Homo sapiens: one gene and its partners. The protein of the gene in region 1 purifies or fractionates together with the protein of each later gene. This does not show direct contact. Each region holds a gene or a part of one and is shown in the gene's direction. Other genes may lie near its edges.

Region 1 (3,659 bases):
TGATTTGTGAAAAAAAACACATTAATCTTTTGTCATAAGTTTTGCAATATGTTTGCAAAACTTGCAATATGCTTTTTTTTTTAACAACTAGTATCATCCAATGATTTGGAATGCTACATTTATCATAGACAAAATGCTTATACATGTGTGGGTTTGTTTCTGTTCCATTGATTTTTCTCTTTATTCTAGAAGTAGTACAACTTTGATTTATTATTGTAACTTTAAAATACACTTTGATATCTGATGTAGGGCACATATTTTTCCTAGATATAAATTTTCTAAACAATGTTATTGAGGTATAATTTGTGGGCAGTAAACTATACATACTTAAAATGTACAATTTGAAGAGTTTTGATGCATGTATACACACATGAAACCACCACCACAATCAGGATACCTAACACACACACACACAAACACACACACGATACCTAACATTTCCATCACTCTCCAAAATTTCATTGTGTCCTTTTACAATTCATCTTTTCTTCCATTTCTGTCCCCAGATAACCACTGATTTGCTTTCTATTCCCATAGATTAGTTTGAATTTTCTAGAATCTTATATAAATAGAAGCATACAGTAGGCACTCTTTCATGTCTGGCTTCTTCCACTCAGCATAATGGTTTAGAGATTCATTCATGTTTTTGTATGTATCAGCAATTTGTTCCTTTTTTGCAGAGTAGTAGTTCATTATATGACTATACCACATTTTAAAAAATCCTTTCCCTGTTGATGGACATGTGGGTTATTTCCCACTTTTCGCTATTACAAATAAAGTTGCCATGAGAACATTCATGTTTGTCTTTGTATGGAACACACATTGTATTTTCATTCCTCCTGCAGAAATATCTAAGAACAGAATGGCTGGGTCATGGGTAGGCATATGTTTAATTTTTAAAGAAACTGCCAATCTGTTTCCCAAAGTGTCATGTTTTACATTTTCCAAAGTAGGGCATATATTTAAATTTACTGAATTATATTCACAGAAGGACTGCCTCTAATTGTCTGCCCCTATGATTTGGTCAGACCTTTTAGCATTTTTCTTATAAGTTTTAGTGATAGATTACCATTATATTCTAAAATGAGCACATATTTTTAACTAGTTGCAGGGTTTTTTTAATTTGTTTGTTTCGTTTTGTTTTGTTTTTGAGACGGAGCTTTGCTCTTCTTGCCCAGGCTGGAGTGCAATGGCGTGATCTTGGCTCACCGCAACCTCCTGTCTCCCGGGTTCAAGCAATTCTTCCGCCTTAGCCTCCGAGTGGCTGGGATTACAGGCATGTGCCACCACACCCGGCTAATTTTGTATTATTTTTTTTTTAGTGGGGACGGAGTTTCTCCATGTTGGTCAGGCTGGTCTCTAACTCCCAACCTCAGGTGATCCACCCTCTGTTGCCCCCCAAAGTGCTGGGATTACACGCATGAGCCACCACACCTGGCCAACTAGTTGCAGTCTTAAAGACCTAGGTATTGCCACATCATTAAGTAGGTAACAGACTTAAATAATTTCTCCTTGTGAATCAATGTTTTTTATTTTGGTAAAAAAAAAACCCCACATAACATGGAATCTACCTTCTTACAAAATTATTAAGTGTACAGTATGGCATTTTTAACTATATGCACATTATAGTACAGCAGATCTCTAGATTTTTTTCTGTGAATCAGTTTAAATATGCATTTTGAAATAAACAGAAACATAATATTATATACAATTATCTTGGATTTGCTGGATTTTAATTGTGGCTCCTCTACTTATGAGATCTTAAACAAATTACTTGATCTCTCTGGGCCTCAGTCTCCTCATCTGTATAATGAGGATAATAATAATACTTACTTTGTAGGATTGTTGTTGCGATGGAAGGAAGAAAAAGCTGGAGCGTTGTCTGGTATGTAGTAAGCATCAATAAAAGTTACTAGTCAGGCTTGGTGGCATGTGTCTGTAGTCTGAGCTACTCAAGAGGCTAAGGAAGGAGGATATCTTGAGCCAAGGAGTTCAAGGCTCCAGTGAGCTATAATTGCACCACTGCACTCCAGCCTGGGCGACAGAGTAAGAACCTGTCTCTAAAAAATTTTAAAAGGCCAAGCACAGTGGCTGTCTTCTGTAATTCCAGCACTTTGGGAGACTGAGGCGGGAGAATCGCTTGAACTCAAGAGTTCATCAGCCTTACAACATAACAAGACTCCCATCTCTACAAAAAAGTTAACTATTAATGTTTTACCTCCTTTCACAGGAGGAATGAAAATTATAAAGCAGATGCTTTTTATTGAAAACCTGTTTTCAGTATTTTGATTAAAGAAATGTGTTCCATTTATAATTATTGTTATTTAACTACATATAGATTTATTATGTACAACTTAACATTCAAAACTACCTTCCATATTTTGTTTGTTTGTTTCTATACCAAGAAAGGGAAACAGAAAAGAGCTGATTTAATAATGGGTTATTGAAAGATTTAGGGACTTGAATATTTGCAAAATGGTATTATGATATAGAAAGAGTGCTGGATTAGGCGTCAGACAACATGGGTTAAAACTCGTGTTTGGCAAACTACTAATCATGCTTCTAGATCTGTAAAATGCAAATGATTATCCATGAACTTTCCACCTGTCAGGGCAGAAAAGAGGATCAAAATGAGCTAATTAATTTTTGCTAATTTCAGCAGAAACAGACTGACCTCTGTTTTGGCTAGAATCATGGGACATTTAACCTATAATAATGTTTTGCAAGTGCAAATTCCTTAGGGAAATAAACAGCCAGAACTTACTACCAGAAGTTCCTGAGGTCTAATTCCATCTTTTCAAGAAGGCTTTTTGATCTGGATAATTACTTACTTCTTAATTTGTCAAATAAATTTAATTTTTACCATATGGAGCCCTGTTGAGAGCTCACTTATTAAAATCTTTTTCCTTTCCTAGGCTTGTTTACAAATTGATCCTGCTGACAGGATATCATCTAGTGATCTTTTGCATCATGAGTATTTTACTAGAGATGGATTTATTGAAAAGTAAGCATTTTGAGTGAATGTGGGTTTTTTAAAAGCATTTTGTATTGGGAAATTTTACTAGCAGGAAAATTGCTGTATAGGTTACTTTTATATAACAAATATTCAGTTTAACAAAAATTTATTGAGTTATTGTATCAGGTATTGACTAGGAAGACAGCAGACTTAACAAGTGTCACGAATGAAAAGCCTAATAATAGGATGGGCATAGTGGCTCACACCTGTAATCCCAGCACTTTGCGAAGCTGAGGCAGGCAGATTGCTTGAGCCCTGGAGTTCACGACCGGCCTGGGCAACATAGAGAGACCCCTGTCTCTACAAAAAATACAAAAATTAGCAAGGTGTGGTGGCACACGCTTGTAGTCCCAGCTACTCGGGAGGCTCAGGTGGGAGGATTGCTTAAACCCCAGAGGTGGAGGTTGCAGTGAGCTGAGATTGCACCACTGCACTCCAGCCTGGGTGACAGGTTGAGACCCTATCTCAAAAAAAGAAAAAGAAAGTCTAATAATAAAAAGTAATTGCAACTAACATTCGTTACACAGTTACCATGTCCTAGGCAGTGTGCTCTGCTCTTTACATACTACAGTTTCAGTGTCATCATAGACCAGAGATAACATTAAATAAGCAATCAATACTTCTTAGCTTTATTCCTGTTTGG
Region 2 (3,659 bases), on another chromosome or scaffold:
CTTTGTGACTCAAGCTCAATTATAATTTTCATTTAAAGTTTAAAGGAAGCCTCCATTCAGGGTGTAGGAAGAAATTACACAGTGGTGACATGTATGAATATTTTATGGAATAGTTCCAGTTGTGTTTGCACCTACGTCTATAAGTGAGTAGGATGCCTAAATAGGCTAAAATGAATGAAATTCTTATAAAAAATAAATTCTTACATTTAGTTAGCTTACCTGGATAATCATTCAAATGGAAACCAGGTTGCTACTGCACTGGGAAAAGAGACTTTATGAAGAACGATTATATAAGCCACTTGCCTTTAAAATAAGTTGTTCTTAAAATCAAGAGATTGGTGGAAGAATAGAAAAACAAGTAAATTGTTAACAGATTTCTTTAATCATCTGCTAAGTCTGGCTCATTGGCATAATTTATCTACTTCTTGATGTTAGTCACATAGTCATAAACTATTACCTTATTGGAGAGAGTGGAAGAGCTTTGTGTGATGGATAAAATACTTGCGGGGTGCTTTATTTGATTTCTTGCATTACTTGGGGATCTAAATCTAGCAATTCACAAAATTACTATCTAAAATGACAAAGATCTAGTGAAACTTCAAGCCACAGTTTCTTTTTGTTGCCCTATTTAGTGATGTTGCCAGTACTTGGAGCCTTGGAAACAGTTTATTATTGTTACATAGTCCGCAGAAATACTTGGTAATTCTGGGAGTCTGAAGTCAGGTGCCAGAAACTGTTCATTTTCTAGTAGGGGTAAGTAAGGTAAGCCATGATTTTCTAAGTCGGAAGTAAAGAAAACAGCATAAAACTGAAGAAAAAAAATAGTAGAAGGAAGGAAGTAGGAAGAAAAAAGAAATCTTATCTGTGCATGATACATAGCAGGAGTTTTGTATTTAACTCAGTGCCACAGTAATAATAGCAGTAACTACAGATAGTTTAACTTGAATTTAATTATTCCGTGCTAGAAGATGCTTGCTATAGAAACAATTTGTCTTTCTCTCATGATGCTATAAAATAATATATTAATTAGCTGTTTTAAAAACTAGATACCATTGAAGTAAATTTTGTTGTTGTTGTTTTGAGACAAGAGTCTCACTCTGTTGCCCAGGCTGGAGTGCAGTGGCACGATCACAGCCTTGACCTCCCTGGGCTCAGGTAATCCTCCTGCCTCAGCCTCCCAAGTAGCTGGGACCACAGGCACACACCACCACACCCAGCTAATTTTCTGTTTTTTGTAGATACAGGGTTTTGCCATGCTGCCCAGGTCGGTCTCTAACTCCTGGGCTCAAGTGATCTGCCTGCCTTGGCCTCCCAAAGTGCTGGGATTACAGGTGTGAGCCACAGTGTCTGGCTTGAAGTAAGTTTTTTAGTGGACAAAGTGTGAGTTGGTCTGTAAAATAATTTATTCCCAAGGGCCTTATTCTAGTTTTGTAGGGTTTTTTGTTTGTTTGTTTTTTTCTGGAAGAAAATGCGACCCAAAATGCCAGTTGGAATACTTAGCAGCTTTTTGGTCTTGGACAAGTTATTTAACCTTAGCTTTAACTTCTTCATCTTTTCAATAGGGATGGATAATAATGCCCATCTTTCAGAGTCATTCTGATAATTAAATGAGGTGATATAAAAGAAGTAACTAGTTTAATGTTGGTGCTTAATAGAGAATAGCTGTCCCATGTTATTTCCCACCACGATCTCCCTCTCTGTCTAGGTGCTCAGTCTCTCTAGTAGCCCAACTCAGTCAGTCATTCACACCTACTGTAGTCTACTGTCATCTTACTGCCTTTCACTGTCCTCTCATTCCCCTCATAACTTTACTTCCTTCTTTATCCTGCTTCAACTCCATGAGCAACCACGACAGTCAGTACACATTCCCTCAGCCCCCACCCCATTCCCCTCTTGCTGTCTTATACAAGAAATCACAACCCTGATTATATCAACACAGATGTGCTGACCAGCCTCACTCTAAATTTATGTTCGCTAGCCTCCGCAGTCATGGTCACTTCCTAGCAGTCACACTATACTTCCATAATCCATTTCACTTTTCTACATGGCTATTCCATTCATTTTCCTCAAGCCTCCAACACCTCCCCCATATTCACTTTCAGCCCCTTAACCGTGCTTTCTATAGCAGTTAACTGAGAAAAGAACAGCAAACGAAAGATAATTTTGATAAACTTACCCCTCACATACCCAGTTACCTGCATCTGTTCCCCAGACTTCTATGTTTTTTTCTGATCAATATGGATAAACTGTTCTTATTTCTGTCTAAGACCACCCTTCCACTTGTGCAGCATTTGTCCCCTCTTGGTGATTCAAGAACATTGCTCCAGCAGTTCTCTACTCTCCTCAGTTTTTCCTTCCCTAACGTATCTTTCTGTCTGCTTACAGATAGGCAGTTATTTCTTCTACCTTAAGAACAACCAAAAAACCCCACTGTACTTGAACTGAATTTCCTCTTTTCTAATGATTACCCCATTTCTATCCTTCCCTTTATAGCGAAACCCCTTGAAGAAGTTGTCTACACCACTGGTGTTCATTCATTTTTGAGCCCTGTTTACTAAGGTTTTTATTCCTACATATGAAGTTTTCTTATCAAAATTACCAAAGATTTCCATGTTACCAAATCCAGTAGTTAGTTCTTAGTCTCATTCTACTTCACCAGTCAGCATTACGTGGTACAGTTAGTCTGTTCTCTGTGAAGCATTTTCTTAACTTGATCGTATGCCATTTTTTTCCTCATATCTCACTGGTTACCTCTCAATCTCCTTGGCTGATTGAACCTGTAAGCCGCCAAATGTTGGGAGAGCTCCAGGGCTCAGTTATCTCCCCTTTTCTCTCTGTCTGTTAACATTTATTTAATCATCTGCATTCTTTTGATGATCTCATCCATCTAGTTCCTGGTTTCAAATACTACCTGTATATCACTGACTCCTATCTCTAGCCTGAATTTCTCCTCTGAACTCCTGACTTGTATATCCATTGCCTCTTTAACATCTCTACTTGTAGGGAAGTCTGCTAGAATCTCAATTCAGCATGCTCCAAACCTGTTCCTCCATCAGCCTTCCCCATCTAATCAAATGACAGCTCTATTCTAGTTGGTAAGACCAAAACACCTTGGAGCCATCCTTAATTCCTCTCTCTCTGTCTCACCTCATGTGATCCGAACCTATCAGCTCTGCTTTCAAACTAGATGCAGAATTTGACCTCTGACCACCCCTACTACCCTGGTCCATTATCTCTCACTAGTCTATTCAGAGATACTCAGATTCCTGTTTCTTGTTTCCAATATTGACCTCTCAGTTGATTCTTTCTCCTCCTCCCAATTTTACTTGAGTGAATCTTTGTAATTAAAAAATAAAATATATGGGAAATGTAGGTGACAAATTTTCTTAGTGAACCTATGTTTTCTTGTGCTTGACTGGTTGGTTGGCTATGTATTTCCAAATTAAGAGTCTTTTTTCTGTGGAACTTTGAAGTTACTGCTTTTTGTTCTTCTAATATTCTGGGGTTGCTGATGCCAGTCTGACTCTCAGTCACTTTTCTCTCTGGAAGCTTTTATTTAGAATTCTCTATTCCTGGAATTCACAAATGTGATCACACTGGTTTGTTGTTGTTTGTTTGTTTTTTGGTTTGGTTTGATTTTTCCTCTGAGTGTTTCTCTG
Region 3 (3,307 bases), on another chromosome or scaffold:
GTTCAGATGTAGTATTTTGTACATTTATCTAAAAAGAAGCATGACGGCCTCCAATATTTATTTAGCATATGTCATGTTCAAGGCATTTTCACATATATTACTTAATTTTTATAGCAAAAGAACTCATTATTCTCATTTTACAAATGAGGAAACTGAGACACAGAGAAATTATTTATATTGATTAAATTTTCTCAGCTACTAGTAATAGAGCCTATGTTTTAATCCTGGTGTTTCTAGTACTAATGCCCTTCCCATTTCAATGCCATTGCATGGCTTACAGTGATGTTAAGAAGCCCTTGCAGGCCAGGTGCAGTGGCTCACACCTATAATCCCAGCACTGTGTGCGGCCAGCTGAGAAGGTCAGCTGACCTGAGGAGTTCAAGACCTATCTGGGCAAGCTAGCAAGACCTTGCCTCTACTGAAAATTAAAAAAAAAAAAAAATTAGCTGGGTGCGGTGGTGCACACCAACAGTCTTAGCTACTTGGGAGGCTGAGATGGGAGGTTCGCTTGAGCCTCGGAGATCAAGGCTGCAGTGAGCTACGATCATGCCACTGTACTCCAGCCTGGGTGACAGAGCAAAGAAGTCTTTGCAGTGCCTTGGAATGAAAAGGAGAGGATAACAATTTGCTACCTTTGTTTGAAATATGGCAAAAGAGAACCAGAGGATAGAGAGATGATGAAGACCCAGTAAAGGGCTATAAAAATCAATGAAGGCATTGGATTCTAGATAAAGTCACTGAATGCAGAGACACAAGTAACAGGATAGGTTGGGTTTGGTTTAAAGGAGAAGGAAGAGATAAATATATATATGCTAAAATTTGGCTTTTCCTCCTGTAATTAAGGATGTTAATGATTGGGTTGGGCCACCAAATGATAATGGAGTAACTAAAGAAGTTACTATTAATCCAGACACTACTTGTGGCAATGACTGGGTCTGTGAACATCGATGGCGCCAAATAAGGTGAGAATATGTATTTAGACATGTCCTCTAATAGTAAATTTCCGTAGCACTTTATTTAAAACAGTTGAAGTTTAAGAATATCAACGTTTTATATGGTATTGTGTTTTTAGGAACATGGTTAATTTCCGCAATGTAGTGGATGGCCAGCCTTTTACAAACTGGTATGATAATGGGAGCAACCAAGTGGCTTTTGGGAGAGGAAACAGAGGATTCATTGTTTTCAACAATGATGACTGGTAAGTAAATATCAATTAAAAATAATATTTTGTACCAGTATGTTCTTGGTTTATTCTTTTTTTTTTCTGTTCATTGACATTTATCATATCTGAAAAATCATGTAGTCAGTGGAGCGAGAAGACAATAGAGATCAAAATTGGGTAGAAGCAAAAGGATGATGGCTGTTACTCCTTCGTTCTCCTGTTTTCATAAGTGCTTTCTGTTGTAAGCAGAATCCTTTCTGTGCACCCTTGCAATATCTTATGCATATATAGAATGCACATTCATATGCTTACCTACACATGCCACAAAATACACAAAGTAATTAATAGAAGGATTGTGAAATCATTAAAAGAACGTTTCTTATAGTCCTGCTCTTTTAATCATGGAAAAATGCTGCCTCAGTACTAAAATATCTTTATTTCTCTTTTTCTCAATGACAGCTCTACCTAGTTTTTTGGTATACTTTCTTCACTTCTCTGTCTCCTTGTGACAAATAACATTTTTAAAGCATATGGATAAATAATATGTATCTTGTGGTTAATGATTTGCTTCAGGAGACTTGAGTTTTAGTTCTGAAACTTCTCATTATTGGCCTTTCATCTGTGATTTTTGTATCCTTTGGCTGTAGTATAAATGATTCCCGAAACTGTAGCTGAGAAGACCTCCTTGCAAACAGTTGAATTGTCTCTGTCCAAGGCCAACTGACACTCATACTTAGCTCACTCTAGTATAAATTATACTTCACTTATGAAAAATAAATAAATACAAAAATATATAAGTCAAGTTGATCTCTTTCCTGCCAAAAAAATGCGTGTCTATTTCCTTAGTTTCCTTCTTTTGTGGATGAAAATACCAAAAAAATCTTTTGTGAAAAAGCTTTATATTTCAAACTATCACTTCCTCATACAAATGCTAGACTGTTTTTATGTACACCCTAAATTCTTTTTGACCTCATGTAGAATAAAAGAAGGTTAAAAAAATAATACCCTTTAAATTTTTAAAGTAATTGGCATTAAGTTCAGTTGAGAAAAAATTTGATTTTACCAAGGTAGCACTTTATCAAAATGTGACCGCTCCCGCCAATCTTCGGTGATATTCTTCAACTTTGATTTTTCGGTTATATTTTCACTACTGAAAAGGAAATTGGTAGGTTTTCTGTAAGGTTACTTTTGGTCCTAGAAAGCTGTTTACACCTACTAGGGAGGCATATGGGTTTTCTTCTTAATGAGACTTCACTGCTTAGGGTTCTAAAACATAAAGTTATGCTGTTTATTTGTGTTAGTCTGTATTCTTGATTTCATTGTTTTGAAGTTAAATCTGAAATTTTATTTTACAGGACATTTTCTTTAACTTTGCAAACTGGTCTTCCTGCTGGCACATACTGTGATGTCATTTCTGGAGATAAAATTAATGGCAACTGCACAGGCATTAAAATCTACGTTTCTGATGATGGCAAAGCTCATTTTTCTATTAGTAACTCTGCTGAAGATCCATTTATTGCAATTCATGCTGAATCTAAATTGTAAAATTTAAAATTAAATGCAAATCCGCAAAGCAATAGCTAAGTGTGTTTCTTTTCTTACATATACAGTAATAGTTACATATCATTAATTTTAAATAAAAGCTCTAATTAGTAAAAAGAGGTTTAAGACACTTGATAGTATGAAATACAATTCCAGGTTACACATAAGTTATTTATTTTGGCAAAAGGATGACTCAAAAATTTTAAAACTAGGCAACAATCTTTACTCATTAAGAGGTAAGACTTAGCTTTCCAAACAGTTTGTCTCCTGTCTACTCTTTTCTCTCCTTGGCATTCTACCAACAAGGCAAACCAAATATTTCATTATTCTTCTCTATTACATGAAAAATCTGTACAAGGGAAGGAAAGCCAAATTTTACCCTTACATAGGTTTCAAAAGAATCCTTTTTCCATAGGCAACATTTACATTTTTATGCCTTTTTATAATCTTTTACCACAAACACATTTAAGTGTTCCTACACACCTTGCATGTAAATTTATTTTTAGTTGTCTTATTTACATATTTTTATGGTCAATCTTAGCAATTTTTAACTTTAATGTAAACCTGGTAAGTTGTTTTAATTATGTACTAGATGCAGATAAA

Evidence for each region.
Region 2: the proteins of CDKL3 (region 1) and LSM14A purify together in Homo sapiens (affinity purification with mass spectrometry; one large-scale study listed by BioGRID and IntAct). This does not show direct contact.
Region 3: the proteins of CDKL3 (region 1) and AMY1A purify together in Homo sapiens (affinity purification with mass spectrometry, with the first as the bait; one large-scale study listed by BioGRID). This does not show direct contact.

The regions. Positions count from the first base shown.
Region 1 is NC_000005.10:134,311,637-134,315,295, reverse strand, and holds part of CDKL3 (cyclin-dependent kinase-like 3), read left to right. Parts: intron 1-1,378; exon of another isoform or gene 1,379-1,885; intron 1,886-2,915; coding exon 2,916-3,004; intron 3,005-3,659.
Region 2 is NC_000019.10:34,178,866-34,182,524, forward strand, and holds part of LSM14A (protein LSM14 homolog A), read left to right. Parts: intron 1-3,659. UniProt on the Homo sapiens protein: Essential for formation of P-bodies, cytoplasmic structures that provide storage sites for translationally inactive mRNAs and protect them from degradation. Acts as a repressor of mRNA translation. May play a role in mitotic spindle assembly.
Region 3 is NC_000001.11:103,661,814-103,665,120, forward strand, and holds the end of AMY1A (alpha-amylase 1A precursor), read left to right. Parts: intron 1-843; coding exon 844-962; intron 963-1,072; coding exon 1,073-1,198; intron 1,199-2,517; coding exon 2,518-2,707; 3' UTR 2,708-2,741; downstream 2,742-3,307. UniProt on the Homo sapiens protein: Calcium-binding enzyme that initiates starch digestion in the oral cavity.